Homo sapiens: one gene and its partners. The protein of the gene in region 7 purifies or fractionates together with the protein of the main gene of each other region. This does not show direct contact. Each region holds a gene or a part of one and is shown on either strand. Other genes may lie near its edges. The genes, in order: LDAF1, TMEM171, RNF146, HTR2B, HTR2A, SPATA2 and WRNIP1.

Region 1 (4,191 bases), on a different chromosome or scaffold from region 7:
AATTAAATTATATTTAATTTTATATAAAAATATAATTATATTTATAAAAATATAAATATAAAAATATTTATAATTATAATATATAAAATAAAAATATAATATAATATTAAAAATATATATATAATTATATATAAAAATATAATTGTAATGTAATATAAAAATCATAATTATAATATTGTATAATTATATTAGATATATTATACTAATATTAGTTATCAATATTCATATAGCATTATTATATATTATATAAATATATTATATTTATATATGTATATAATTATAATATGTATTATATTATTTATATATTATTTATTATAATTATAATTATTAAAAGCATTATTATTAAAAGCATTATTAAGCATTAAAAGCTAATCACTTGTCTATTAGTAAGCATTAAAAGCTAATCACTTGTCTATTCACTTGTCTATTAAAAGCTAAGCTCAGCATTAAAAGCTAATCACTTGTCTAGAGTCGCACAGCCTCCAAGTGGCAAAATCTCAGCATTAAAAGCTAAGGCCTGGCCAGCATGGTGGCTCATACCTGTAATCCCAGCACTTTGGGAGGTGGAGGCAGGCGGGTCACCTGAGGTCAGGAGTTCAAGAACAGCCTGGCTAACATGGTGAAACCCTGTCTCTTTTAAACATACAAAAATCAGCCAGGCATGGTGGCGCGTGCTGGTAGTCCCAGCTACTAGGGAGGCTGAGGCACGAGAATCGTTTGAGCCTGGAAGGCGGAGGTTGCAGTGAGCCAAGATGGCGCCATTGCACTCCAGCCTGGATGACAGAGCAAGTCTCCTTTTCTTTTCTTTCTTTCTTTTTTTTTTTTTGAGATGGAGTTTTGCTCTTGTCGCCCAGGCTGGAGTGCAATGGCAAGATCTCGGCTCACTGCAACCTCCGCCTCCCGGGTTCAAGCCATTCTCCCGCCTCAGCCTCCCGAGTAGCTGGGATTACGGGCGCCCCCACCACGCCCAGCTAAGTTTTGTATTTTTAGTAGAGACAGGGTTTCACTATATTGTCCAGGCTGGTCTCGAATTCCTGACCTCAGGCGATCCACCCGCCTTGGCCTCCCAAAGTGCTGAGATTACAGGCGTGGGATACCGCGCCCCACCGCAAGTCTCCTTTTCAAAAAAAAAAAAACAAACCTAAGGTCTTGGACTCAGAATGTCCAATGCTTGCAACAGCTGCCACCACATCAAGTAAAAATGCTTTTATGTCATCAACCTGGTTACCATAGTTGGCCACAGCCTGTGACTAATGCAAGTTTATGTTGTGTTAATAGTTTATTTTCCTTCACCGGGCAAAAAGGAATTTTCGATCTGACTCAATGGAGGGAGACTGCTTTAACGCAGAGCTGGCCATAGGCAAATCCGCAAAGATGGGTTTCCCCCTCTCCTCCTTAGGCTCCACGCCTTCTCTCTCCTCAGTACTGGTATTCTAGATCCTGTTCACTTGAAAGGAACCATTATTCCAGAACCTCCTTCCATCATAACTGGTCCTTCCTGAGCCTCATCCCTACGGCCTTGCAGGCCAACAGATGAAAAGAAGACATAATTCAGGTCCCCAAAACACATGTGCCTCCTAGGAAGAAGAGTTTACCCAAGTGGTTTAAACAGTGGGATTTTCAGGGCGAGTTGGAAGGCAGGAGGGGTTTGTGGTTCATGCTGAAGGAACTAAAGTGCAAGCTGCACCCTGCTTAAATAAAAGAGGCCATGCCAAGAAGCCACAGCCATTGGTCTTGGGCTTCAGCGTGGTCTCCTAAGGATTACTCTCGAGGCATGGCCAATTTCACTCCCTGCCAGGCCACAGGACGGCATAATGCCCGCTGACCTCACTGCCTCCTGCTACCCCACCATTCTGACAAAAGCCACCAAAGAGCTTGCTATTCCGCTTCTCTAGCCAGAGATGACTGTAGCAGGAATCACCTTGGAGCCAGCACTGCCCAGCCTGGACACTCCATCATCAGAGTCCAGTGAGATCCTGCTGTGTTGGGGCAGCTGAAAGAGAAAGAGAGGCGGAGGAGCCGTGGGAGTCACCACACAGAATGTGGGCTGGTCCCTTGCGCTGTCTCAGGTCCTGACTTCTTTCCAGTTCGAATCCACATGCATCCTTATTTGATGCTCCCTGTGTCACCTGATCTTTACAATCCAAAGAACCACAGTGGGGAGAGCAGATGGGCTCTCCAGGAAAGGGAGGCAGCAGTACACCCGTGAGTATGCTGCGCCAGCGAGGGAAGGGCTGTGCAGCGGAAGGAACTTGTGAGGCTGGGACACCAGGACACTGGGCTTGCTAGCTTATCCCCGGGCTGTCCATCACAGGCCACCTGCGCCATTCAGCACTTGAAATGCTCCTCCTGTGACTGATGGCCTGGATTTCCAATTTAATTTAATTTAAATTTTAAAGCTGAGACTTGATTCAGTTGTTGGAAAAATTTTAAGTATGTTTCCAATAGGTTGGGTATGTGAATCTATTTCGCTGAATTGTAAGTTTTATAAAATCTGAATAGAGATTAAATATTTCCAATGAAAATTTGGCATCAGAATTGAGATGTGCTTTAAGTGTAAGAAAAAAAAATGCAAAATATCTCATTAATACTTTTTTATATTACCTGTTGAAATTATAGTGTTTTGGATATATTGTGTTAAATTGAGAATATATTATTAAAATTAATCTCTGGCTGGGCACGGTGGCTCACACCTGTAATCCCAGCACTTTGGGAGGCTGAGGTGGGCAGATTACTTAAGATCTGGAGCTTAAGACCAGCCTGGTCAACATGGTGAAACCCCGTCTCTAGTAAAAATACAAAAAAATTAGTCAGGCAGAGTGGTGCGTGCCTGTAATCCTAGCTACTTGGGAGGCTGAGGCGGGAGAATCACTTGAACCCGGGAGTCAGAGGTTGCAGTGAGCCGAGATCACGCCACTGTACTCCAGCCTGGGCGACAGAGCGAGACTCCATCTCAAGATAAATAAATAAATAAAATTAATCTCATTTGTTTCTTTTTGTTTTTAATGTAATTATTAAAAAACTTAAAATTATATATGTGGCTCACATAATATTTCTGCTAGACAGCACTCATTTAAATTTCATCTGGGAAAAAAAAAACAGGGAACAAACTGCTGTCATTTGAGCAGAACTATGACATGATTAAAGGAATGATTTAAGAAATATGAACCTAGCAATCATGTGCAAGAGGCAGGTAGAAAGATTTGCAGGAAATCAGGCAAGATATACTGTGGTCAAGTCCAGGCTGATGGCAGAGAGGGAAGAGAAGGGGGAGGGGTAGATGGGTATGAAAGTGGAATGACAAAAGAAGGAATACACAGGACTTAGGGACTGTATGGCACAGGGATATAAAAGGAAACAGGCAAGACTGTTCCACTTCAGTCCTTAAGGAATCCACCTTTTTCTTAGCCTTTTGTTTTTTTGAGATGGAATCTCACTCTATTGCCCAGGCTAGAGTGCAATGGCATGATCTCGGCTCACTGCAACTTCCGCTTCCCAGGTTCAGGCGATTTCCAGCTAATATTTATATTTTTTAGTAGAGATGGGGTTTCACCATGTTGGCCAGGCTAGTCTCGAACTCCTGACCTCAAGTGATCTGCCCGCCTCGGCCTCCCGAAGTGCTAGGATTATAAGCATCAGCCACCATGCCCCGCCATTCTTAGTCTTTTCCGAGTCTGGGCTCTATAATCAAAGAGAAAGTCATTTAGATATGCAAAGAGACCAAGATTCAGATGATTAAACCCAGAAATTGTCTTCTCCCAGGAAGTACAGCTGAGCTCCAGCCAGTCTGTCCCAGGAGGGGAGGACACGATTCAACCACACCTAATAATAACAGAGAACATTCATTAAACACTCAGGTGCTGGGCACTGCTTTAAGCACCTCTCGTATTATTTCCTCATTTATTTCTTCCTACAATGCTACGAGGTAGGTAAAAAAGAACGACCTAACACTATTTAAACTCAGGGGGGTAGAACGTAGCAATTAACATTTCATTCTCATGGCAACAGAGGGGGATGCAATGGAAAGATGGAAAGTGGGAGAGGTTATTATTCAGTAACATGCACTGTGATTTTCCATCACCAGCCTGGAGGTAGACACAGGTTACCCAATCTAGGCTCTGTAAGCACAGTGCAGCACTGCAGAGCCCAGGAAGGCCAGGCTGAGACAGACTGACAACATTATGCGCCACC
Region 2 (4,191 bases), on a different chromosome or scaffold from region 7:
TACAAATTAGAGTTTGCATCTGGTCCCTAGTTTCTCCTCAAAACATGAGGATGTATTCTGGAGTGAACAGTAGCCACAGAAATGCAAAAACCAAACTTCTTTGGGTTCAACCTTCATCTGTATGGGTGAAATTTTGGTAAATAACAGTTAGGGGCTGTAATATGGCTTACTGTCATTTGCTCAGGGGCTGAAACTACATTTGAGGAACAAGGCACTTTAGCCAACAGCTAACTTGTGAATTAAAGTTGTAGGCTGAAAACGAGAAAAGCTTTTTCAGCAGTAGACACCCCAGAGGAGGGAAAGGAGCTTGTTAGCAAACAATTCACAAAAAGGCTTGGTCTTAGACTTGCTACAAAATATAGACCTGCTTTCATACCATAATTGTCAGCACTCTGGATTCTGAAATGTAGGCCTACTTTTAAAAAATTTGTGGTAAAAAAAAAAAAAAAATATATATATATATATATATATAAAGCATAAACAATTTAAACTGCTTTTTGTTTCGTTTTGTTTTGTTTTGAAACAGAATCTCACTCTGTCACCCAGGCTGGAGTGCAGTGGCATGATCCTGGCTCACCACAACCTCTGCCTCCCGGGTTCAAGCAATTCTCCTGCCTCAGCCTCCCGAATAGCTGGGATTACAGGCGCCTGCCACCACGCCTGCCTGATTGTTTTTTCTTTGTATTTTTAGTAGAGACAGGGTTTCGCCGTGTTGGCCAGGCTGGTCTTGAACTCCTGACCTCAAGTGATCCACCCGCTTCGGCCTTCCAAAATGCTGGGATTACAGGCGTGAGCCACCACGCCTGGCTTTTTTTTTTTTTTTAAGACAGGGTCTTGCTCTGTCACCCAGGCTGGAGTGCAGTGGTACAATCATAGTTCACTGCAGCCTAGAACTCCTGGGCTCAAGCAGTCCTCCTATCTCAGCCTTCCGAGTAGCTGGGACTGCAGGCGTGTACTCCCACATCTGGCTAAATTTTTTCTTTTAATTTTTTTGAGATGAGATAGCGCTGTGTTGCCCAGGCTGGTCTCCAACTCCTGGGCTCAAGCGATCCTTCCTCCTCAGCTTCCCGAAGTGGTGGGATTATAGGTGTGAGCCACTGCACCCAGCCAAACCGTTTTTAAATGGTTTAGTGGCATTGAATACAGTCACAATGTTGTTCAACCATTATCATCATCAATTTCTGGAACTCTTCCATTATCCCCAACAGCAACTCTGTACTCACCAAACAGCAATTCCCACTCCCTTCCTCCTCCCGAACCCCTCCTAGCCCCTGGTAACCTAGTCTACTTTTCTATCTCTATACATTTAATGGGCTTACTTTTAAATTTTGGAGTTAGCAGCAGGTGTGTTGACCTTTTATATAGATGGGCCAAATATATAATTAATTTTGCTTTTGCTAATTTGCTTCCATTTATTACCCACCTGTTGTCAACTAAATATTGTTTTGCCTTAGGTGACTCGGTAATAATATTTCCACCCCCTCCACCACCTTACTTTCCTGAATCTTCAGCTTCTGCGGTCGCTGAGAGTCCTGGAACTAACAGTCTGCTTCCGAATGAAAACCCCCCTTCATATTACAGTATTTTCAACTATGGGTAAGAATTTCAATTTGAACTTCAAGAGAGGCCTGAATTCAGGCCACACTAGTATTAAGGCTGTGTGGTTCACCAGGAGGCATTCAAGTGTGAGTATCTTTTTTGCTGATGTTATGTCAGAATTAGTGTCTTGATATTAACAGTACCTTTGCCGAAATTTGGGCAGCACATAAGTTAAAAATGATAAAGTGATCATGCTGGGTTAATATGAAGCCTACTCCAGGCATCTATCTTTATGTGCTCCTAACAGGGGTGATACTCAGAATGTTTAACAACCCTTGCCGGGTGCTGTGGCTCACACCTGTAATCCCAGCATTTTGAGAGGCCAAGGTGAGTGGATCACTTGAGCTTAGGAGTTTGAGACCAGCCTGGCCAACGTGGCAAAACCCTGTCTCTACGAAAAATAGAAGAATTAGCTGGGGATGGTGGTAGGCACCTGTAATCCTAGCTACTCGGGAGGCTGAGGCATGAGGATCGATTGAACGCAAGAGACAGAGGTTGCAGTGAGCCTGTTACCGGCGGAGGGTGTCCACGTACTTTGTGTTTTGAACAAAGAACTGGACAAAATGCACAAACGAAGCAAGGAAAGAATGAAGCAACAAAAGCAAAATTTTATTGAAAATGGAAGTACACTCCACAGGGTGGGAGCAAGCCTGAACAGCTGCTCAAGGGCCCAGTTCCAGAATCTTCTTGGGTCCAAATCACCCCTAGAGGTTTCCCATTGGCCACTTTGTGTTCACCTCATGTAAATGAAGTGGTGGCCCACAATCCGTCTGATTGGTTGCAGAAAGCAGCCAATCAGAGGCTGAAGTGAAGTTACAAAGTTGTTGTCCTATGCAAATGTCTGATTGGTTGCAAAAAGCAACCAATTAGAGGCACTTTCAATTTCCCATCTGCCGAAAGGTGGGTGTTTGCAAAGGGAGTAGTCTTTGGTCCTTTTGTTACTCAGGGGTGGAAAGTTAGGGTTTTCCTTTCAATTTAGTTCTAGGAAGTCAGCGTGAAACGGCCGTAGATTCCCTGCCTCCACACCCTATTCTTCTGCTCCAAGCCGAGATCGCGCCACTGCACTCCAGCCTGGGCAACAGAGAGAGACTCTATCTCAGGGGGAAAAAAAAGAATGTTTAATGACCCACCAATCAGACTGAGCACCAGGACTGGGCCAGGAGGCCCCTGCTATGCTAGGCTTCACTGCTTTAGATCATGGAGAGGTGTGAGGGTCTCAGGGGATCCCCAACAGTTACAGAAGGGCTTTAGTACTCTGATGGCCGTGCTTGGGTGACTGGCTAAAGTCAGCCTGAGCCCCGATCCAACACAACTGGGCCTCTCCTTCAATATTCGCTCCTTCCCTGGGCCGCAGAGAATATCAGGTCAATACCCACCCCACACAGAATGCAGCGAGGCAGGCTCTAGTGGGACGGGCCTGAGGTGCCAGGAGCCTGGGGGAGGGGGTCTGGATGGAGAATGACATTGAGGAAGAGGCGAAGATGATGAGTTCCAGGGTGAGTGACAGGGAAGCTCAGAGGTCCCCAACTGAGAAGACGTGAGTGATGAGCTTGGTTTCGGTGGGGAAAGGATGGTGGGCGGCTGATGGTGGCGGTACAGTGAGATGAGGGCCTTGGAGGCAGACTGGGAAGGGCTGGGTTTTGGGAGAGAGAGGAGGTGATGGAGATGGAGCTGCAGAGGTTGTTGGAGAACCAGAAGGGCAAAGAGTCAGGGACTAGTGGGAGACCCCCAGGAGGGGCTTGTGCATACCCCAGAAATGGTGTGCTCAGGGAGCAGGGCTGGAGAAGGCTCTGGTGGTACCTTCTAGAATGGGAAACCAGGGTTTAGGAAGGGAAGGAAGAATTGCTTCACATTGTCACAGGGTGAAGCAGGTAAGACAATGAGATATGTGCATTTTTGCATGCAGTGAGCAGCAGGCACAGAGAGACTGGTGCTCATTGCTGGGGATAGCACCACCTTACCTTGTTATTCGTGTTTAAGGAACTCCCTCTCCACCCTGCCTTGACAGAGCAGGCAGTGGGCCTTGGAGCAGGGGCCAGGGTGCCTTTTCTCTGGGGCCTGGAGGGAATGAAGTTGTGTAGAGATTCTTTTCCCACAAAAGCAGGGGGACAGGTTATCTGATGGGAGAGGGAAAGAGGTGGCTGACAAGGACAGAATTGGCTTTACAGCTTCATATGGGGTCGTGATGGGGGGATCCAGGGAGGTGCATGTGGGAACGGCCCTGCATGGAGAAAGGGCAGGCTAGGGCTGGACCTCTGTAGAATTCTCATCGTGAATGTTTGTATTTTTTTTCTTCTAATGATAAACTTCCCCAAACCCTAAAATCAGTGTCTAGTAACTTAAACTACTGCTGCTGCTACTATGATTTCTGTGTCCTAGGGTCTGGCTTTTCTTGCATTAGTTTATGTAACTCCCATATCCAGTCTAGGAGAAAGGAATGTTATCATCTTCATTTCAAGATAAGGAAACTGAGCTTTAGCAATGTTAACTAACTTGCCCAAGATCACACAGCTGGGAAGCAGCAGAGTAGATTCCAGTGCAGGTTGGCCTTTGTTAGAGCCCACTCCATTAGCCAATATGCCTTCCTGCCGT
Region 3 (4,191 bases), about 120 Mb from region 7:
CCTCTCAACCCTTTCACCAACTTCAAGGAGCCTACAACTTCAATGGCATCAAAGAAGGCTATGTTCATTTCCTTGCTGCAGCCTACGCCAAACAGAAAACTGCACATTTTCATACACTCCCTATATATAGGACAGGAGGAGACAATTTACTGCTCCAACATCATTACTTTTTCTTTCAAGTCTCTATCACACTGACTTTAACATACCCCATAATCCCCTAAAACTGCTCTCTCACCACCTGTAAGGGATTAATGTCATCTTTTCACTACTGATCATCCTCTTCATCCTAACTCCTGACATGACTATCAGCCTATTTAAATAGCCTTGAAAATGAACCATCCAACACCTATTGCACAGGTTCTTAAACTTGTCCCAACTTCTATTCATCAGAATCACTGAAATTGCTTGTTAGAAATACATATTCTCAGCCCCTTTCCTTAGAAATTCTAGGCCAGTAGACATAGGTTTAAACCTAGGAATCTCACCCCAGGTGGTACTCATGCTTTAGTCCTTCAAATACAATCTGAGAAACACCATCCTCAATTTTCAGTTCCTTAAATCCTAAATTTGAAGAAATTAATCTACTCTCCAGCAACCAAATATTATAATCACATTTAAAGCTAGTTGTCACCTAAACTGCTGCCTCTCTGAAATCTTAATCCGACTCTCAGATCACAAGCTCTGGTTCTTCCAGCCTACTCATTCCCACACCTGCTCTTCAATTTCATGGGGACCTACCATCTCTTGACCATCTCCTTTCCTTTATCCAGTTCCTGATCTCATTTCCTTTCCTGCCCATTCTGGAACCCAATCTTTTTTACTTCTTAACAGAACCCTTGGCCCCCTCATATCTTTATCTCATATACACACATTTTACAAACCCCCATTTCTGCATAATTCTTACAATATGACATCTCAGGTTTCATGTCTTAACTACTTTGTGTTCATGGAGAAAAAGAGAAAGTCCTTTCTCTCACCACACAGCCCCCTGCTCCCCCACCCCAACCAACCACACCATAAATTCTGTCAACTTTTATTCCTAATCCCTTTGGAATCTATCCTGTACTCTCTACCCATTGCTAGTGCCCTAGTTTAAACCTACATAACTCTCACCTGGACTATTGTTCAGCCTGATTATCTTGTGTCAGTATCACCCTCATTTATTAAGCCTTTGAGTGAGATTCTCTCTCTCTCACTCTCTCACACACACACACATACACTCACTCTACAGTCTGTTTCCCAGGCTAGAATGCTGTGGCATGATCATAGCTCACTAAAACCTCAAACTGCTTGGCTCAAGCGATCCTCCCATCTCAGCCTCCCAAGTAGCTAGGACTGACTGATATATTTAAAAGGCAAAATGGACCAGGTTTCTTCCATATGTGAAGCACAATATTGGGTCCTCAGCCTACACAATAAAGACAAAGCTCCTTAGGACAACATTAAAAGGTTTTAAAGATCTAAACTGTAAATAATTAGTCTCTAGTCTTTTTTATCTTCAACAACCACCCATAGATTAATAATCTAGTTGTATAAAATTACTCATAGTCCTGCAAACCTCCCTTTGTAGCTCTGTATTTCCTCCTGCCTGGTACGATCTATTCCCTTTTACAGCTTATGAATGCCTATTTGTTCTTTAATATATTACACAGAAATGGTTATCTCTACCATTTTCTCTGACTACCTCCAGAAAGTTAACTGTTCTCTCCTCTATGTTTTGTATGTTTTTCTATTACGGAATTTATCACATGCACTAATTTCAATTCATTTGTGAAGTCTGACTCTTCTGTGAAATCATGAATCCCCTGAAGATAGGGAGATTTTTATATCTTTAAATAGCTAGTAAATTGTCAATCAATTTTTGTTGAACTGATATTTTTTGGATGAATGAAAAATCAACTCCTAAAAGTAACTATTGTGAGGAACAGAATATCAAAGGATTAGATTTATTCAAATAACACAACACTTGAGTTCTAATTGTGAACTCAAGCTGGAATCTGTAAGATACATAAAAATATCTAAGTTCTAATCCTTGCTTTATATAACTTAAAATCTAAAGGAGTTCCTACATTTACAAATATAAAATTCAACCCATCTTTGTATCTTTTGGCAAGCAAATCATTTACCCAGCTATTGTTCATTGTCAATGAATTCTCCAAAATGGAGATAAAAATCTAAGCATAAACCAAGATGGGTTTCTGAACAGCCAAAACAGCTTCACAAAGCTCTTTCCCCAATAAAGCTTATGATTCTTCACTAGGATGACCACATAGGTCAGCCCAGCATCTATCCAGTTTGCCCTTGGTCTCCCAACAAGTGTTCCAGTTCAGAAAAATTATACAGACATTCTACCCTTTACCCATCACAAAGGTTTTCGGACCATCACTCAAAAGTCAATTTGCTCTTACTTTACCCACAATTCTTTTGTTTTGTTTTGTTTTAAGAGACAGCGTCTGTTAACCAGGCAGGAGTCCAGTGGTATGACTGCAGGTAACTTAAACCTCAAACTCCTGGCCTCATGTGATGCTCCTACCACAGGCTCCCAAAGTGTTGGGATTACAGGTGAGGGCCACCATGCCCAGCCTTTACCCACAATTCTAACTTGAAGTTTTTTGGTCCACAAAGTCCTGCTGAGTGTTGCTGTTGGTCATTAGCACTGCCTATCCTTCGCTATCTTACAAGTCTTTTAAGATGTACCAATCCATCCTTCTCAGAACCTAATTGATTGAATGGTAAAACCTCTAGTGTGAAGATTCAATTAAAACATTTCTTCTAAAAATTTCGTTCAATCACTATTTGTACTTTAATAATTGAGATGTGTAGAAGGTACCATTTTATTCCTAAGAAATACACAAAAAATGTCCTTGTTTCTAATTCTCCTTATCTCCTGAATGCATTTACACATTATCTGTAACCAATCTAATTTATTCCTCTCTATTCACTTACTTTACTTAGGTCTTATCCATAAATATTTTATCTCTGAAACAAAAGTTGATTCTTAAAGGAATCTAAGTTAACTGAAACAAAGCAGCTTCAAAATAAGTACAAAAAAATCCTCTAAAGAACCCATATTTGAACACCCAAATAAGCTGTGATCTTTCCTATAAAACTATTTCACATAGCTGAAATAAAGCTATAGCCACAAATATTAAAGTAAAAGCTTTGCTACATATCCACTAGAACAAAGGTACTAAAAAAAAATCTGGTTAATTCAAGGAGATGCATTCTCTCATTCTGCTTTCCTTATTTGAAGACTAATGATTAAATTCAAGTAACTTATCAATAGCAAAATTATTTGAAAAAGCCCCTTATAAAGAAAACACACACACACACAAACCCAGGAGCAGAGAACTATTTACTTAATAGTACTGAAATAACAGCAAAGTATCTATGAATAATGACTTTCCATCAATATAAACTTTCTCCTTCAACAGAAAGAACATCCTTGCCCTCATTACACTCCTCTAGTCCAGTTATGTTCAGCAGTAAACAAAAGAATGTATCAGTGACCATAACTCACATTCGAGTATCTTTCTATACATTAATGCCATTTTCAAAAGAACACAGCCAAAGACATATTTATTTAGCCTATTTCTTCAATTTTTTTTTTTCTAATTCTGGCCTGAAGTCATTTCTAGGATTCCTTTAGAAATGGCTTTCTCTAATTTTCAAAATATTGATGATGTCATTTCTTTCTTTAAAGATCTTTGACGATAACCTCATACAGCTGACCTTTCAACAACACAGGTTGGAAATGAACAAGTTGACTTATATACATACAGTTTTTTCAATAAATATGTTGGAAATTTTTTTGGAGATTTGTGACAATTTGAAAAAACTTGCAGATGAATCATGTAGTCTTGAAACATCAAAAAAAGGAAAAGAAAAAATTAGGTATATTATGAATGCATAAAACATATATAGTCTATTTTATCATTTAGTATTATAAAATATAGAGAAATTATAAGAAGTTAAAGTGTATCAAAACTTAGTAAACACAGACACATATGGTGCCACTTGAGGTGGTACAAGAAATTTAAACAAATGTAAAGATGCAGTATGAATCATAGCTGTATAAAATTAATTGTAGTACATACTGTAATAATTTCCTGTTGCTATTATGAATTTCCACTTAAAATGCTGTGGACACTAATCATCTCTGCATGTATTGGAGTAAAATGTAATCTCTTG
Region 4 (4,191 bases), on a different chromosome or scaffold from region 7:
GGTCTAGTTCCAAGTTCTTGTTATTTTGTGTGATATCCAGCTACTATCCTCCCTATCCCTTCCATCAAAACAGTTTCCTGATCAGAGGAAAATTATGACTGCATTCAACTAAATCAGACTATAAATGGCAATCTTAACTCACCTCCAGATGTGATCACTGTTTTGTGCACTTATTTTTAGCTCTGTGTTCCTTTTGTTCTGTATCATGCCTTATGCTTTTAAGACCTGGAAGGCAAGGCTAATGTTTGTTTTGTTTTATTTCATTCTTAGCACAACTTTGCATATAATTAGAAACCAAATAAATTTTATGATGACAGTGGTTCTTTTTAAAGCCTGAAATTTATTGATTTGACTTTATTTCATTCGAATACCTTAAAATTTAACCAGAGTGCTGGATTGTTTTCATTTGTAGCTATATAAAATTATTTTCCTCATGGAATAATCTTGTCCAAATTAGGAAAATTAGATATTCTTAATACTTACATCTTAGGTTAAAGAGATGATTTGATATATGACATAAAATTCTTTATATAATATATTCTTGGCACATTTACATCTCATTCATCATCTTACTCATCATTATGTTTGATGACAACTGCCAGTTCTGCTATACATAACTAACTTGCTCTTCAGTTTTGTCACCTTCATTTTCAGTGAGGAGAAGCGTATCTAGTAGAATGATTGATGAAGACTGAATGGTTGAACTTCGGAGCCTCATTGGACTCTGGTACATGGCAGGGTTAATCCCATTTCGAATTCCATGTTTCTTGAAAAACTTAGAGTTCTCTGCCATTGGATTCCGGAAGTAGATCTTACTGGAGCGTTTTCTGAGAGTTTTTACTGACTTTGTGGCCCGGTAATTGCAGGTGATATATCGGCCAAATGCATCCCGAAATGTCTTATTGAAGAGGGTGTAGACCAAAGGATTCACTCCTGAGGAAACATAGCCTATCCACACAAATATCTCCAGGAGCATTTGGAGAGTAGTTTGGTTACAGGAATCACATAAAACTAAAGTTATATTTGTAATAAAGAAGGGACACCACATAAGCAAAAAGAGGAAAAACACAATCCCTAGGACCTTTGAGGCTCTCTGTTCGTTGGAAATGGTCTGCACTGACTTTTTCCCAATTGTGGATGTTCTTCGCATAAGTGTTTCATCACCTGAGTTGGGCAGAGCCTTGTCCTTTCGAGAACCATCCAGCATTGCCACCTTTTCCGGTGACGAGCAAGGTGTTTCATCCCTTTGGAAAACTGTAGACACAGTCAACCATGTTAGGCGTTGAGGTGGCTTGTTTTTGACTAAGTAAGCCTTCTTCTGTAAAGCATGGATAGTGAGAAAGTAGGTGACAATCATAATTGCAAGAGGTGTGAAGAAGGCAGCCAGTGAGCCAAAGAGCATGAAATCGCCAAAACGTTCCTTTGTCAGCACACAAGTGATATTGTTTGGGTTGTCCACATCAGTCTCTATCCCTTTAATAGGGACTGGAATGGCAATGCCTAAGGAAGAGGAAAACAAGATAAATTGAGTCATTTTATGACCTGTAACTCTTCGATTAGATCCTTTTGGATTGTATCCTTATAACTTTATGCTTGTTGGTGCATTATAATTCCTGGGACCCACAATGCAGGATTTGTCGAAGCATTCATCAGTGAAGATTTGACAAACAGAACCTAAGTGAGCAAATCTGTTTTTAAACGGAGATTGGTTAGTAATTTCAGATTTATAATGAAAGCTCCCCTAAAGCTATAGTATATCCATGATACAGTGGAGAATGTCTTCATTTATTCTACATTTCTCATAATCTATTTTTGTTTTTTAAGCTATCTCAGATTAAGGAAGAGAAATTCAGAAGAGAACCTGCTTTTTTCTTATTATCCAGTGTAGTTGATCTAGAGGCACTTCAGAGTACATTTATTCAATATCTTTACTCAGTTTTGTCTTTGAGGTTACAGTTTCATTTAACAGTTTTTCCTTTTGATATGTGTGAATGTCTTTTAATCCTTTCCATCTAACTTCTTAGGGAAAACTAAAGTTCATTAAAAAGTGCTACTTAAAATTTGAGTGTGTGTGAATCATGATGTTGAAAGATTATGAGTTCTTAATCTTTCTTCTTCTGTAGAAGCCTGGGCACAGTGGCGCTCATGCCTGTAATTCCAGCACTTTGGGAGGCCAAGTGGGGGTGGATTACTTGAGGTCAGGAGTTTGAGACAAGCCTGGCCAACATGGCGAAACCCCATCTCTACTAAAAATATGAAAATTAGCCAGGCATGGTGGCACGCGCCTGTACTCCCAGCTACTCAGGAGGCTAAGGTGGGAGAATCACTTGAACCCAGGAGGCCGAGGTTGCAGTGAGCCGAGATCACACCACTGCCCTCCACGCTCAGCGACAAAGTAAGACTCTGTCTCAAAAAAAAAGTTCTTTTATGACCTGGGAAAGAAATATACCTCATGTTAGTTTTCTGATCTTTAAATACCATGAAGTATTTAAATATGATGTTTCTTAGTGAAGTAGCTTATTAGAAAGACAAATAATACAGGGGTTAACCTGAATCTTTTTCCTTTGAAACAGCAGATATTTTTTAAATGTCTGAATTAATTGATCTTTAGAAACCTCTGGAATCCTTGTGTTGTTTTGTGAATCCAAGAGCACCCCTCATCTACACACCCTTTTTATGGTAGCTAAAGAGCCATTGACAAGAATATGTTCCTCAAACCCTTTCTAACAGAGGTCATTACTTTCTCTACTTTTCCTCATGTACACCACCAGAAAGAGGATTCTGTATACTTGTTCTACACCAGGGGTCATTATACTACAGTTTGAGGACCATTGGCCCACATTCTATTTTTGTAAAAGTTTTATTGGCATACTGCCACTCCCATTTGTTAGTAACATATTGTCTGTGGCTGCTTTTGTTCTACTGCAGCAGAATGGAGGAGCTGTGACAGAAACCATATACGCCCTGCAAGCCCAAAATATTTGCTGTCTTACCCTTTATAGAAAAAGTTTGCTGACCCCTGCTTTACCCTGTTACTTTCAGATCACCATTCCACTGTTTATTTCTCCCCCAAAACACTTGCCTTTTGAAGTTTATTTTATCTACTTAATACTTTCTTCTCCATCTTGCTTTTCTGTTAACCTCCATGACATTTGTTCATCTTCATCAATGGCTTCAGTACCTGCTATAGTCTTCTCTCCACTGTTCCAGTGCCAGCATTTTCTACTTCATCCCATTCGTGACCCTTCTAAGACCTTAATTTTATATTTCTTGAACTCTTTGACTCTAATTATTATTATTTGCACTAAAGCCATCTACAAGTCTACTTAGAACAATCCCTAAGATTATGAACTCTAATACTTCCCTTCCTTGTCCTGCTACCCCTCACTCCTAGAGAACTTCTGTTTCCTGTTATTTTTATCTCTAGTTCATTCATTCATCTCAGTTTTCACATTCTATTAACTCATTCTATTAATGAGACTTCATTCATCTCAGTTTTTACATTCTGTTAATATCAGGACTCACACTACTTTCCTATCCAGCTTGTTGGTCAATAACTGTAAAAGTTTTCACTGGTACTTTTTATGCCCTTACCCTGTTATATTATTATACTTTCTGTTGCCAGGTATTACCTAGAATAACTGTAAATCCAAAAGAAGAGAGTGAGCTCTCTTCAGCATTTTGTAGAATTTCAGAACTGAGCTTATTGTCATCTGCATTTTCATTTTTTCAAAGTTATTAATTTGTGATCGGTTCTACAAGACAAAGTGCAATGAAGTGAAAGAGCGTTGATTTTGGCCTTGGTGCTGAAAAGCTGTAAGAGTTCTTAAGCCAACTGATTAAAACCTCTAGGTTTCTTTTTTCTTACCTACAAAAGGAAGAAGTGGATTTCTAAATCTATATATCATGAGTCTTCCTTTTAATCTTTTTTCTCCTGCATCACTCATCACTTTGTGTTAGTGTAATTTGTTTATATGTCCGCCTTTCTTGAATGCAAAGATTCTTTTTCTTGATCATCTGTGTATTCTTAGTACCTAGCACATTATAAACACTCAATAAAAATGTGGTCAATTTATAAATTGATGGTATCCAGCCTTAATCTAGATGCCATTTATACCAGCAGGCTGCTTACCTTATTAGCTTGATCACATTTCACAGTTTCAAATATTTTAATTATTCTTAAGGATCCAT
Region 5 (4,191 bases), on a different chromosome or scaffold from region 7:
AGTTAGCAGTAGTCTTACGATGTTGAGGATATGAAACTTGAAGCTCAGAGCTCCTCAAAATGGAGAACACGTCAGGCTTTCATCTGGGATCATGAAAAAATACATCCTAGGTATAAAGGCAAACTAGAAATAGACTGGCTTTTATAAGAACCTTGCCTTAAATAAACTCAATCCCTTATTGGATTAAGGGGAACTGTGCTTACTTTAACTGCTGTTAATGCTAAAAGACTCCACTCTGGAGAAAGGCAGTATCAACAAAACACCCAAACATTTTATTTCAGTGTCCAGTATTCAATTAAAAAGAATTACCAGGCGGCCAGGCGCAGTGGCTCATGCCTGTAATCCCGGCACTTTGGGATGCCGAGGCGGGCGGATCATGAGGTCAGTAGATCGAGACCATCCTGGCTAACATGGTGAAACCCCATCTCTACTAAAAATACAAAAAAAAATTTAGCCGGGTGTGGTGGCGGGCGCCTGTAGTCCCAGCTACTTGGGAGGCTGAGGCAGGAGAATGGCGTGAACCCAGGAGGTGGAGCTTGCAGTGAGCCGAGATCGCGCCACTGCACTCCAGCGGGGGCGACAGAGTGAGACTCTGTCTCAAAAAAAAAAAAAAAAAATTATCAGGCATACACAGTACTCAATTAAAAAAATTACCAGACATATCAACAGACAGAATGAAGAGAAAAACAACCCCAAAACTCAGAAAAGAGAAATCCCTAGGTAATCCCACAACCCAGAAAAGAGAGATCCAGATAACTTGTGATTAATATTTAAGAAAATAGATGAAAACATGGAGAATTATTCTAAAAACCTGGAATTTATAAAGAATTAAATGAAAAAATCTAGAACTAAAAGTGTAGGAATTAAAATTAAGAAAACAAGAGATGGGTCTTAGGCAGATTAGAAGTAGCTGATGAGAGGACTAGTAACAGAAGAAGAAAAGTCAGTAAAGCTATCTCAAGAAATAAAAGGAGAAAAATGTACAAAATGTAGAAGTGTTTAACACTGCATGTTCTCACTAATATGTGGGAGCTGAATCGTGAGAACACGTGGACACATGGTGGGGATCAACACACACTGGGGCCTGTTGGTGGGGGGAGGTGGGAGGGAGAGCATCAGGAAGAATAACTAATGGATGCTGGGCTTAATACCTGGGTAATGGGATGATCTGTGCAGCAAACCACCATGGCACACGTTTACCCATGTAACAAACCTGCACATCCTGCACATGTACCCCTGAACTTAAAAGTTGAAGAACAAAGCAAAAAAAAAAATGTAGAAGTGCTTGAGTTATAAAGAACTTAGGTAAAAGGTTTAGCATACATGAGATTGGAGTCCCAGACATGAGGAAGAGAGAGAATGGGGCAGAAGCAATATTTGAAAAGATGGTGACCAAGAGTTTTGTCAAAGTGGCCAAAGTCACAAGTTTAAGAATCAGTACATACACCATGCAGGATAAAAACAGAAACTAATTCACAACTAAGTACATCATGATAAAGTTGCTAAAATAGAGACAAAACATTCTGAAGCAGCAGGGCGTGGCACAAGGTGATGTTTCTGAAGGAATAAAAATAAGACTGACAGCTGGATTCTTACAAACAAAAAATATAAGCCTGGAATGTTGGATTTGCCACCTATGAAGTGCTGAAAAAAAAAAAAGATGACTGTCAACCTAGAATTCTATACTGAACAAAAATGTGTTTGAAATGAAAGCAAAATAAAGATGCTTAGGATAAGAAAAACAGAACAAACGACATGATATTCTAGAGGAAATTCTTCAGGAATGAGGAACCCAGGCAAAATCATGAAAATGAAGAAAGCAATAAACAGCAACAGGGGTTAATATGTGAGAAATAGTGAATAGAATGGCTATAATGATGTCTTATGGGTTTAAAAAAGACATTTAGTAAATAGGGAAAAACCCAAAAGACAACAGGGATAGATGGAGCTAAAAGGTTCTAAAGTTTTTGCACTATCCGAGAAGTGTTACAAGTAATAATTTGTTTTAGACTCTAAGGTCAATAAGGAATGTTGTAATCATTGAAGTAATTTAAAACAATGGATAACAAGCTCATAAAGGGGAATGATGAATTGACAATTCTTGATTAGTCCAAAAGAAGGTAAGAATGAAAAGAAACTAGAATATAGAACAAATAAGAAAATAGCAAATTGTAAGATAACAGATTTAAACCCAAATATGAGTTAACATTATATGTAAAAGGACTAAATACTCCAACTAAAAGACAAAGATGGGGTTAAAAACAAAACTTTATATGCTGCTTACAGGCTAACACTTTAAAGTCACAAAAGGTTTGAAAGTAACAGGATGAAATAAGATATATCCAAAAATGATAATCAAAAGAAAATTAACGTAGCTATACTAAGATCAAATAGATTTTAAATCAAGAAGCATCACTAGATATAAAGTGGGACAGTTAATGATAAAAGAATCAATGTAAAGGTTAAAATTTGTATGCAGCTAATAACCCATGAAGGTATAGAAAATGTAAATGCAATAACTATAGAAGTTAGAAATGTAACTTAAAATACTATTTAAAAAGGAGCCAGGATGAAGAGATTTGGAACCAAGTTCTACATAACCTCTCAAAAACATGTAATTTCTACTTAAAGACTTCAAGACTTAGGGAAAGTGGAAACTTCTCTATCATTTAATAAAGCTAGAAAAAGAAAACTTGTAAGAATCATAAACCAACCAACTTTGTCATACAAACTCAATATTCCAGGAATGTAAGACAGTATTACATTTAGAAATTTACCAAGAGAGTGAACATATCAATAGCTTGAAGAGAAAATATCAATTGAGTCTAAAAAAAGCTTTAGTTACTAGTAGAAGCAAACAAGTTAGATCATATTTTAAAATTCCAGCTAGACTAAGGATCTAAATTAAAAGAAACCACACACAAAGCAAACAAAAAACTAAACCCAAAGCAAAATAATCAAAACAGAAACACTAGAAGAAAACTCAAGAGAATATTTGTGCTGAGTCTCTGTAGGTCCTTCATTAGATCTGCCTTTTTCCTTTTTACATTTTCCGCTTGCCCCCTCCTCAGGGCACACACCTCAGACTTCTAGTATAGATTCTATGTAACTTTTTTTTATTCTTTTGTTTCCTTGTCTTCTCCTACCTTACTGTGAGAGATCTTTGAATGCATATCTTTTTCATCTTGGTCTATACAGTGCCAAACACATAGTAGATGCACATTACAAGACTGGTCAAATGTGGGGGCAGTGGCTCATGACTGTAATCCCAGCACTTTGGGAGGCCAAGGTAGGGGGATCACCTGAGGTCGGGAGTTCGAGACTAGCCTGACCAACATGGAGAAACCTTGTCTCTACTAAAAATGCAAAATTAGCCGGGCGTGGTGGCACATGCCTGTAATCCCAGCTACTCAGGAGGCTGAGGCAGGAGAATAGCTTGAATGCGGGAGGCGGAGGTTGCGGTGAGCCAAGATAGCACCATTGCACTCCAGCCTGGGCAACAAGAGCGAAACTTCATCTCAAAAAGACTGGCCAAGTGGATGGATGAATGATCCCTGCCTGGCACCACCACAATCATTCCAGCCTGCCTGCCTCCTGTGGTGATAGTCTGCCTCTGGCTCTTTCTGGCTATCTTTTGTGCAGTGGAAAGAGCATGGGCTTTGGACTCAGATTGACCCATATTGACTCCTGATTATAAGTGATATCATCCTGTGCAACTGAGTTCTCTGAAGCTGATTTTCTTTAAGGGGCTTTGTATACTACTGGGTCCGTACTCAGTGCTCAGAAACTGTTACCTTACTACTGGTGTTATCATGAAGCCTGAATGAGATGGGGGAGTCAGTGTGGCTGAGGAAAAGATGGTTGACCTTCCCAGCATTTGTCTCACCAATGGCACAGTATATTGGGGTAAAACTATGGACAGTGTATCAGGGTAAAAATAAATAGCTTCATTTGCTCCCTCTGCATTAATCTTGATTCTCCTACTTATCACGCTGACCACCCTGAAAACCTGTCTCAGTGGTCTTCAACTCTGACTGCCCCTTAGAATCACCTGGCCTCACCCTAGGCAATTAAATCAGAATGTTCCCAGGGGCATTTTATGTGTAATTGGGATTGAGTGGTTACTGGCCCTTCACTTTCTTGCTCTTAGTAGAATGAGTCCAACTTGCACAGTCCCAGAAACTACAAGCA
Region 6 (4,191 bases), on a different chromosome or scaffold from region 7:
GGGGCGGCCAAGGGATGAGCCTTTGGGAGAGGCCCCGTGTGGCAGGAGGGCTCATTTCACAAGCCAACAGGCCTCTAGCTCGCCGCTCCAGGTGGATGTTTGGTGACCTGAAGGGCCCTTCCCAGTCCAAGTTGGCTTTGCAATGGGAGGGGTAGGTGCAGCGAGGGTCCCAGAGACAGAAATCCTCTTTAAAGGAAAAAACAAAACAACAAAACAAAACAAAACAAAACCCCAAAAAAAGAACCAACTGAACAGGGAGTGGAGAGATTAGCAAAATGAATCTGAACGGAAGTGCCACCTTCTCCCTTGTCAGACAACAAAGCAGCCATTGGTTGAGATATCTGAGTCGCTAAGTGAACTCCCACGTGGACACAGCCAGCCCACGATCTCTGCCACCTACATGGTCAAGTGCAGGCCTCCGCCTCTGAGATCAATGCGTTAGTACTTCTTCACCGTGAAACCCGAAAGGTCGGTTGATGTAGCCCTTGGAGCTGGAAGGGGCGAGGCCGGTCTATCTGTACACGAGATGGGAGAGCTGGGTGGACTTGTAGTTCAGCTGGTTGTTGGGCATGAACTTGTGCAGCTCACTCTTTTTGTAGCAGGGGTCATAATGGTAAGCGCTGAGGCAGGCGTCACATGAGACTTTTGAACACTGGGTGCAGGTGTTGGTGGCGCCTGGGCGGTTGCAGAAGCCACAGCGGGAAGTGGGCGTGGTGGAGGGCTTGGATTTGGAGTGAAGGTGCGGGAGGCGGTCGAGGCCCTGAGTCTGGCCTGGGTACTTCTCCCGCAGAGATGCCCCGTGGGCCAGGCTGTCATGAGTCGAGGCCTTGCTGGGGAAGGCGCTGGGCTTGGAAGCTGGAGGACAGGTGAGCAGGCTGTCACAGCGCTGGCAGAGGGAGGAGCTGCAGGACAGCCCGCAGCTTTGGCACTTGGAGAGGGCGGACTCTTTGGCAGGGGGCGAGCGCTTGTGGTAGAGGGAGTGGGCATCGTTTCTGAGCAGCCACACATCCGGCCGCAGAGCATCCTGCCGACGGTAGGTGGCCCTGGGTTCAGAGTCTGTGTACAGATCCACGTCATCCTGAGTGGAGAAGTAGGTACCGCGCAGCAGGGCCGGGCCGTTGCTGGGGGAGGCGGGTGGAAGCACATCCGGGCTGCCGTGGGGGGAGCTGGCCATGGTCAGCAGCGAAGGGGATGGGCGGATGATCTCATCCTTGAGGTCGTCCCCCACATCCGTTGCCACAGGCTCCTTCCGAAGACTCAATGAGGCCTTCAGGGGTGGCTTCCGGCTCTCCCAGTAGCTGTCATAGGCATCCACTGACCTCGAGGGCTTGGTCACGCGGGGCTTGTAGTAGTCCTTGGCCGCCCGCTCGCTGGCCGACTTCTGGAGTGCCACTCGTGACATGGAGGCCGTCAGGTGCTCCCGGCCCTCTGCCCGCCGCCGCAGGGCGTCCGAGCAGCCGCGCACATCCTCTGCACTGCTCTTGCGCTCGCTCACAATGTCCAGCTCGGAGTAGCCCTTGTCCTTCACTTGTGAGTGGATTTCTAGCATCTGCTCACACTCGACTTTGGCCAGAAAGAGCTCAAAGGAGACCATCTTCACCTGGAGGGTCTCCACGAGCTCTCTGAGCTTGTATGCAGTGCCCAGCTCAGGTGTGTAGCCCATGCAGCTCAGGATGGCTCGGATGTCCTCTTCCAGTAATGTCGACTTGACATAATAAACAAAAGGGCCCGTGTAGGTCTAGAAGGGAGGGAGTAGAAAAGAAAGGTGGGGTTTTCTGTCAGAGACACAAGACAGAGACTATGTCAAAGCAAAGGATGTCCAGCTCTGAAGTGGGGCGGCGGGGAGAGGGCAGGGCAGGGAAGGATCTCGACAGCCTCACCCTGCGGGAGGCAGAAGACGCAGGAGCTGGGGCTTGCTAAGCACTCAGGAATTGTGCAAGGAAATGACCCAGCAGCTCCTTTCTTTTGTTTGAGACGGAGTCTCGCTCTTTTGCCCAGGGTGGAGTGCGGTGGTGCGATCTTGGCTCACTGCAACCTCCGCCTCCTGGGTTCAAGCGATTCTCCTGCCTCAGCCTCCTGAATAGCTGGGATTACAGGCGCCCGCCAACACGCCCAGCTAATTTTTCTGTTTTTAGTAGAGATGGGGTTTCACCGTGCTGGTCAAGCTGGTCTCAAACTCCTGACCTCGTGATCCACCCGCCTCGGCCTCCCAATGTGCTGGGATTACAGGTGTGAGCCACCGCGCCTGGCAGCAGCTACTTTGTTAAACACAGGAAGCAAAACCTCTCGCTTCCTAGTGGGGCACGAAGACTCTACTCCATATGAAGAGAGAGCCTGGGCAAACATGGCTGAATAAAGGGGCCAGATTACAGGCAGAACGCGGTGACAATCAGAACGTTCCTCTCTGGTATTTCCATGAGGGGCTGAGTAACACGGCAGACTGAAGGGCCTGGCTAGGTGACAGCTCTCCTGTGCCATCCCCTCTCTTGATTACCACTCCTCCCATGGCAGAATGAAGAAGCCTGGCTAGGTGACAGCTCTCCTGTGCCATCCCCCGCGTGGTCTGATTCAGGATCCCTCTCTCAATTCCCCCTCCTCCTCTACTGTTCCCACTTAGTACAGAACACCCCTCAGCTTGCTGGGACCGCTGAGAAGCTTCCTAACTGCTCTCCCCATCCCTCCCACCTCCCCCCACCCCTCTACAGCCTACTTCCCATACCACAGCCAGAATGACCCTCTTCAGATGCAAGCCAGATCCCACACTGCCTCCTTCCCCGCCTACTCAGAACAAATCCAAGCCTTGCCCTGGGCCACAAGACCCTGCATAACCTGGCTGCCCCTGCCTTCCCAGCTTCTCTGCTTAAGGTGTGGCAGCCGGGCCAGAAACGGTTCAGAGGTGATGCTGGAGAGACGGGGAAGGTTCGGAGCCCGGAAGGATCTGAGAGCACAGGATGGATGGGATCAGACTGGCATAGCCTCTCAGGAGGGACTGCCAGGGGCAGGAAGAGAGAAGGAGGGCCTGTATGGAGGCTGCTCCAGGACCTCACCTTGATGCTTCTGAATTCCTTCTTCCACGGGTAGAGGAAGAGGTTGATGCCCACCGTCTCCAGCATGCTGAAGGCGCCGTGCAGAGCCCGCAGGCTAGAGGAGCTGAGCGAGCGCAAGGAGCTCTCCACCACCTCATAGAACTGGATCAGCCGGAATCGATAAAAGGGATCCACCTTGTGCAGGCTGAGCAGGGTTGAGGCTGCCACCCGCAGGCACTCATCGCTGCCAGGCCGCTGCCTGCTGGTGGTGGTATCCACTTTGCTCTCATGGAACTGCACGTACTTCCGAAATAAGTCATCCTTGAATTTAGTATCCATTGAACTGGGCTTCCCCATCCGATCGAGGGGGGCTACCTTATCTCCTCCATGGCTTCTGGATTAGAGGCAGGGACATCACTAAAAGCATGGACATGTTGCCGCCTGGACCAGCGGAGTGCTCTGGAAGGAGGGGAACAAGAAGCATGTCATTCCTCGATACGGTCGCGCTTCGGCTTCAGGTCGCTGAGGCAAAATGAACAGCAGAACTGGCCTGGGCTACACTGGACCCCAGCAGCACACTACAGAGCATGTACTACAAGCAGGGTTACAACAGAGGCCAGAGAGAGATGGACCTTGACTTTGTTGTGCTCACAAATGAAAAATACGATTAATATTCCTGAAAGAGAAATTCGGGTGAGTACAGCAGGAGCTCCTGTCCTGGTTTCGTTGGGGAAGGGCGAGTTTAGGAAAGCCCTCTTGAGACAGCAACAGACCTGAAGGATGAGGAGTCTGCCAGGCCAAGAGGCCGGGGAAGGAGTCGCAGTAGAGGAAGGCCCTGAGCTAATAGTACCAGAGGCTCCAGACACGTGACGAGCTTCACACACACTAACTCGCTTACTTTTTTTTTGAGATGGATCCTTGCTCTGTAGCCCAGGCTGGAGTGCAGTGGCGTGATCTCAGCTCACTGCAACCTCCGCCTCCCGGGTTCAAGCGATTCTCCTGCCTCAGCCTCCCAAGTAGCTGGGATTACAGGCACCTGCCACCACGCCTGGTTAATTTTTGTATTTTTAGTCAAGATGGGGTTTCACCATGTTGGCCAGGCTGGTCTCGAACTCCTGACCTCAAGTGATCCACCAGCCTTGGCCTCCCAAAGTGCCAGGATTAC
Region 7 (4,191 bases):
ACTACTCCATTTTTACCCTAGATTCACATGAAATCAGTGAAATGTGCTTTAAAAAAAGGCATATTTAAGGGCAAAAAAATGACAGCTAAACAGTTCTCAGGAACTAAGCAGTGGCACCTGCATACATTTCACTATTCTCTGGCCATCGTCCCTTAGGTAAGTTCAAGGAGGGGGCACCCTCCTCACGAGAAAGCGGAGGATGGTGTTCCCGTGAGTCTCACTCCTCCCAGAGGAGCACCTGGTCTGTGCTCAGCATAAGCCCATGTCCACAATACGACTGGCGCCAGCCACAAACCCTGGCAGCTGAGCTCGCTGGTAAGATGACAGTTGGTCTTCAGGTGGAGAAGAGAGCAAGCGAAGATGCTGGCCTCCCACAGGGGAAAGACCTGCAGGACCCACGGCTCAGCCTGAGTGATTCTGGTTTCTGAGAGCCAGGGCAGATGGATGGGTCAGCCCAGCTACTGGATTTCTGAGAACAAACTGAGTGTCTCCTGTGCAGGGCTCCCCTGGTGAAGTCAGAGTGCTATGGACACTGGCCGAGAGGGTGTCCTGGATGACATCTGCATGGTTCTGGCCCACTCCCTCACCCTGCTGGCCCAGGCACTCAGGCTACGCTCTGCTCCTCTGCAGGGTGGAGGAAGGCGGGGAAGAGGGTAGCAGGTAACAGGCCTGGCTAAACTCACGGGCATGGGGGCTGGAAGAAACTACCCACACCACTTTATGTCAAATTTAAACTCCCCCTACACAGGTTAGTCATCTTTTCCCACTTTGTCAATGCCAGGGGCAATACCACCAGTATAATGGACAAGAGCACAGGCTCTGGGACCAAACAGCCTGGGCTGGACCCCCAAGCTCATGGGCCATGGGCAAGTTCCTGATCCTCACTGTGCCTCAGGTTTCTCATCTGTAAAATGGGAAAAACGAGACCACTTACCTCACAGGGCTGTATTAAATAACACACGCCTGGCACAGAGCAGGCACTGTAAAAAGATTCTTTTGCATCAGTGATAGATACTAGTATTATTCTATGCTACCTTCCATGTTTGCTTTTATTACACACTGCTTTATAACCTGAAATCTGACGACTTCTATAGAACCCCGATGTCAATGCATGGCAGAGAGTTTGCTCTCATTTAGAAATTCCTTCACTCTGATGCAGAAACATCACTGGATCCTACTAGTGGGTAACTATGAACTAGGTGGCATATACAAAAATAATCACAACTCTGGGGGTGGGTCTTTGTCTCACTGGAGTTATAAAAAGGCCCAAGAGTATAAGCTAACAGGTTTCCAGGGCAATGCTTCCACTATCCCTATTTATAGAGCAAAGCCTGTAAAAGCAGCTTTCTCCAAGATCTGAATGATATTTATGTGTCTGCGGATCCACTGTGGGGCAGACATGTTGCACTGGGGTGGGGTGTGTAAACACACTCATACTGGGAAGATGTATAGGATGTGGGGTTCTTAAGGCGCTGGCACTAGGCAGCGGCACTAGGCAGCCTCCACCACCCCCCAGCTCCAAGCTATAGACAAGGTGATCCCCACTGTGCAGAGCTCTGCAACGTGGAGCTCAGGAAGTGGGATTCCTAGGACTGAACCCCTCCAAGATCCGCTCTGTATGTGCATGGACGGGTGACCCCTCTCAGGAGCATGATGTAATGGGTGAGATCAGTAACAGCATGGCAAGGCTGGTGTGGAGGCAAATGCGGACGGGGGGAAGGACAGTCTTGGGAACCAGTAAGACCTGGATTTACGGGTCAGTTTCACCACTTGCTTTGTTATCTTAAAATGGGGGTAATATTAATAGCTATCTCCATAAAGCAATTTTGAGAATTTAAAAAATGAATACACCTATAAAATACTCAATGGCTGAGTGTTAGTGAATGCCATGTTATATGGATCTCAAGTGACAGTCTGATAAAATGTCAAAGAACAGTCCTAGTCGTTCCAATCAAAACAAGGCAAATCCTTTGGGACACCTACAAGAAGAGAGAGAGAGACCGCTGCTGCTGCACTTCAGAAACAATGGCGATCCCGGCATGGTGAGATTTTTTTAATGTCTTAAAATCTTTTTTCTTGTTCATATCTACATTTTTTCTATTTGACCAAAAGTCAAGCAGGGCTCTACACACCTAGAATGTGTTGCTTTTCAGACTTTGCAAGCATTCACGTCATGCTCCAGAGCACTAGGGAGAGCCAGCCATCTGAGCAGGCCCCGCTGAGGCACATTCACGTCACAATGTAGACAGGATTATTTATTCAACTTGCCAGTGTGTCCTTAGCACTAATGAACACCCCTGAGCTACCATCAGCTGAGGCACGCTAAAGCCAAAAAGCTTTGGTCAGCCCCCCTAGGTCATGCAGCGAGTGTGCTCACCCACGAAGAGGCAGCGCTTGGAACCAAAGTCATTCTTAAGCCCCTCCACCCCTTCTCTAACCAGTAAGGACTCTCCATTGTCACGTGGCACAGCCTACGTGAGATCAGGAACATTCAATTATCAGCCTCCTTTTCTGGCAGAGCTTTGAAAAGTGTGGAAATTATATTCCACAGTTACTGCAACATGATTCCATCCAAAGTCCCACAAATGCTCAAGCAGCAGAAGTTTGCTAATCTACAGTATGTTATATTCATCTCCCACTTCTTTTATAAAAAGATGCAAATGTGCTGTGCTAATGACATTTAATATTGCTAAGTCACAGATTTAATAAGAGCTGGTATCAAATCTGCTATCTGTAAATGCAGTTCTACAAAAACAGATAAGTGCACACAGCAAAATTAAATTTTTGAAAAAGCTACTACATAAAATAAAAACTTCAAGATCCATGACTATTTTTTAGTATAGACTCTAGAAATAAAGCATTTTAATTCTCAATTAAAACTAATAAGTCATTATGACAAAAGTCCTCTTTTTATTTACTGCCGTTGTAAATGATCACAAAACATATTCATTGTCAAGTGAATGCACAGGCTTTCAAAGGTGATTGTATTCTGCAAGGTGGGGAATAGCCAACTACCTTCTAAGGTGAATGTGCAGCCTGCCATTTCCAACCCCAAAACTCCTCTAGATTCTCAACAGGGCAGCTTCTGCTTCATGCCTCTCTTCGGAAAGGTCAGCCCTGTGTAGAAGGCTTAATACCAACATGCAGATCCACCTGAGAATCACTGGAATGCTCTGGACCCAGCTGGAATGCTTCCGGAACCCAGTCAGGCTTCCGGAAATGAGAATGTGTGCACACACTTCTTTCCGTATGGTTTCACTCTTTCCACAGGTGAATTACTTACCTGCCCGGTCATATAAAATGTGGGATCGCTGTAGGCCCTCCTTCACGTCATTCTCTGTGATCAGAACTCTACTGGGAGAATAGGATTGCCCACTCTTCTTACAGAACATCTTCCTAGAGCTTAACCTAGCCAGCACCGCCAGCTGCAGTCCGTTCAACCCAGCTCGGGCGTCACCGTCACTGAGGTAAGCCAGGGTGTCTACTGCTTTATCCTCTATGAACATGGCGGGCCTGAAACACAAGCAGGGTTAGTTACGGTCACACTCAGGCTGCATACTTCTTGTTCTGCACATGTCTTAGAAACTCATACTTCTCAGCAAGGACACTGAAGAGTTCAAGGCCTTTGCCTCTTATTCTCACCTTTGTCAATGTGCTTAAGCATCATCAAGACTACGAACTGACTGGGGCTCCTAAGTCACCAGGTTATCGCCCTGTATCTTATGAGTGTCGAGGGTATCTCACTGCATAGGTTCATACATCTAAGTCTGTGTGAAACAGACACTGACTGGCCTGGAAAGTCACTGTTGACAGGTGGTCTCTCTGGTTCTACCCTGCACAACAGTGAAAACTTTATTAGAAATGCTAGCACCTCATTACCGTGTATGGAAAACATGTTCCAAATGCAGCCTACATCCGATGAGACAGATGTGCTTAGACCACTTTCCACACAGGGGAGAGTCAGCATTATATCTGAATATTAGCTCTGAAGGGCTCCAGATCATGCAGTTCAATTCCTTCATTTTAAAAACAACAAATTGGGTCCCTAGTTACTCTGAGCACAGCAGGTCCTAGAAGCAGGTCTCAGGATTCTCTTGGCCTGGGGAATCTTGGGATGCTGCAGTAGGTCATCTCATAGTGGACACTAATCATGCAAAATCCGCACAGGGTAGCAGAGAGGTCATTAGCCTG

What was found.
Region 1: the proteins of WRNIP1 (region 7) and LDAF1 purify together in Homo sapiens (co-immunoprecipitation; one large-scale study listed by IntAct). This does not show direct contact.
Region 2: the proteins of WRNIP1 (region 7) and TMEM171 purify together in Homo sapiens (co-immunoprecipitation; one large-scale study listed by IntAct). This does not show direct contact.
Region 3: the proteins of WRNIP1 (region 7) and RNF146 purify together in Homo sapiens (co-immunoprecipitation; one large-scale study listed by IntAct). This does not show direct contact.
Region 4: the proteins of WRNIP1 (region 7) and HTR2B purify together in Homo sapiens (tandem affinity purification; one large-scale study listed by IntAct). This does not show direct contact.
Region 5: the proteins of WRNIP1 (region 7) and HTR2A purify together in Homo sapiens (tandem affinity purification; one large-scale study listed by IntAct). This does not show direct contact.
Region 6: the proteins of WRNIP1 (region 7) and SPATA2 purify together in Homo sapiens (co-immunoprecipitation; one large-scale study listed by IntAct). This does not show direct contact.

Annotation. Positions count from the first base shown.
Region 1 is NC_000016.10:21,164,642-21,168,832, reverse strand, and holds part of LDAF1 (lipid droplet assembly factor 1), read right to left. Parts: intron 1,994-4,191; coding exon of another isoform or gene 1,922-1,993; intron 1-1,921. UniProt on the Homo sapiens protein: Plays an important role in the formation of lipid droplets (LD) which are storage organelles at the center of lipid and energy homeostasis. In association with BSCL2/seipin, defines the sites of LD formation in the endoplasmic reticulum.
Region 2 is NC_000005.10:73,126,936-73,131,126, forward strand, and holds part of TMEM171 (transmembrane protein 171), read left to right. Parts: intron 1-1,454; coding exon 1,455-1,596; intron 1,597-4,191.
Region 3 is NC_000006.12:127,273,183-127,277,373, reverse strand, and holds part of RNF146 (E3 ubiquitin-protein ligase RNF146), read right to left. Parts: intron 1-4,191. UniProt on the Homo sapiens protein: E3 ubiquitin-protein ligase that specifically binds poly-ADP-ribosylated (PARsylated) proteins and mediates their ubiquitination and subsequent degradation. May regulate many important biological processes, such as cell survival and DNA damage response.
Region 4 is NC_000002.12:231,107,910-231,112,100, forward strand, and holds the end of HTR2B (5-hydroxytryptamine receptor 2B), read right to left. Parts: intron 1,501-4,191; coding exon 608-1,500; 3' UTR 321-607; downstream 1-320. UniProt on the Homo sapiens protein: G-protein coupled receptor for 5-hydroxytryptamine (serotonin). Also functions as a receptor for various ergot alkaloid derivatives and psychoactive substances.
Region 5 is NC_000013.11:46,886,824-46,891,014, forward strand, and holds part of HTR2A (5-hydroxytryptamine receptor 2A), read right to left. Parts: intron 1-4,191. UniProt on the Homo sapiens protein: G-protein coupled receptor for 5-hydroxytryptamine (serotonin).
Region 6 is NC_000020.11:49,905,108-49,909,298, forward strand, and holds part of SPATA2 (spermatogenesis-associated protein 2), read right to left. Parts: intron 3,486-4,191; 5' UTR 3,384-3,485; coding exon 3,048-3,383; intron 1,739-3,047; coding exon 512-1,738; 3' UTR 1-511.
Region 7 is NC_000006.12:2,778,585-2,782,775, reverse strand, and holds part of WRNIP1 (ATPase WRNIP1), read right to left. Parts: intron 3,514-4,191; coding exon 3,284-3,513; intron 1-3,283. UniProt on the Homo sapiens protein: Functions as a modulator of initiation or reinitiation events during DNA polymerase delta-mediated DNA synthesis. In the presence of ATP, stimulation of DNA polymerase delta-mediated DNA synthesis is decreased.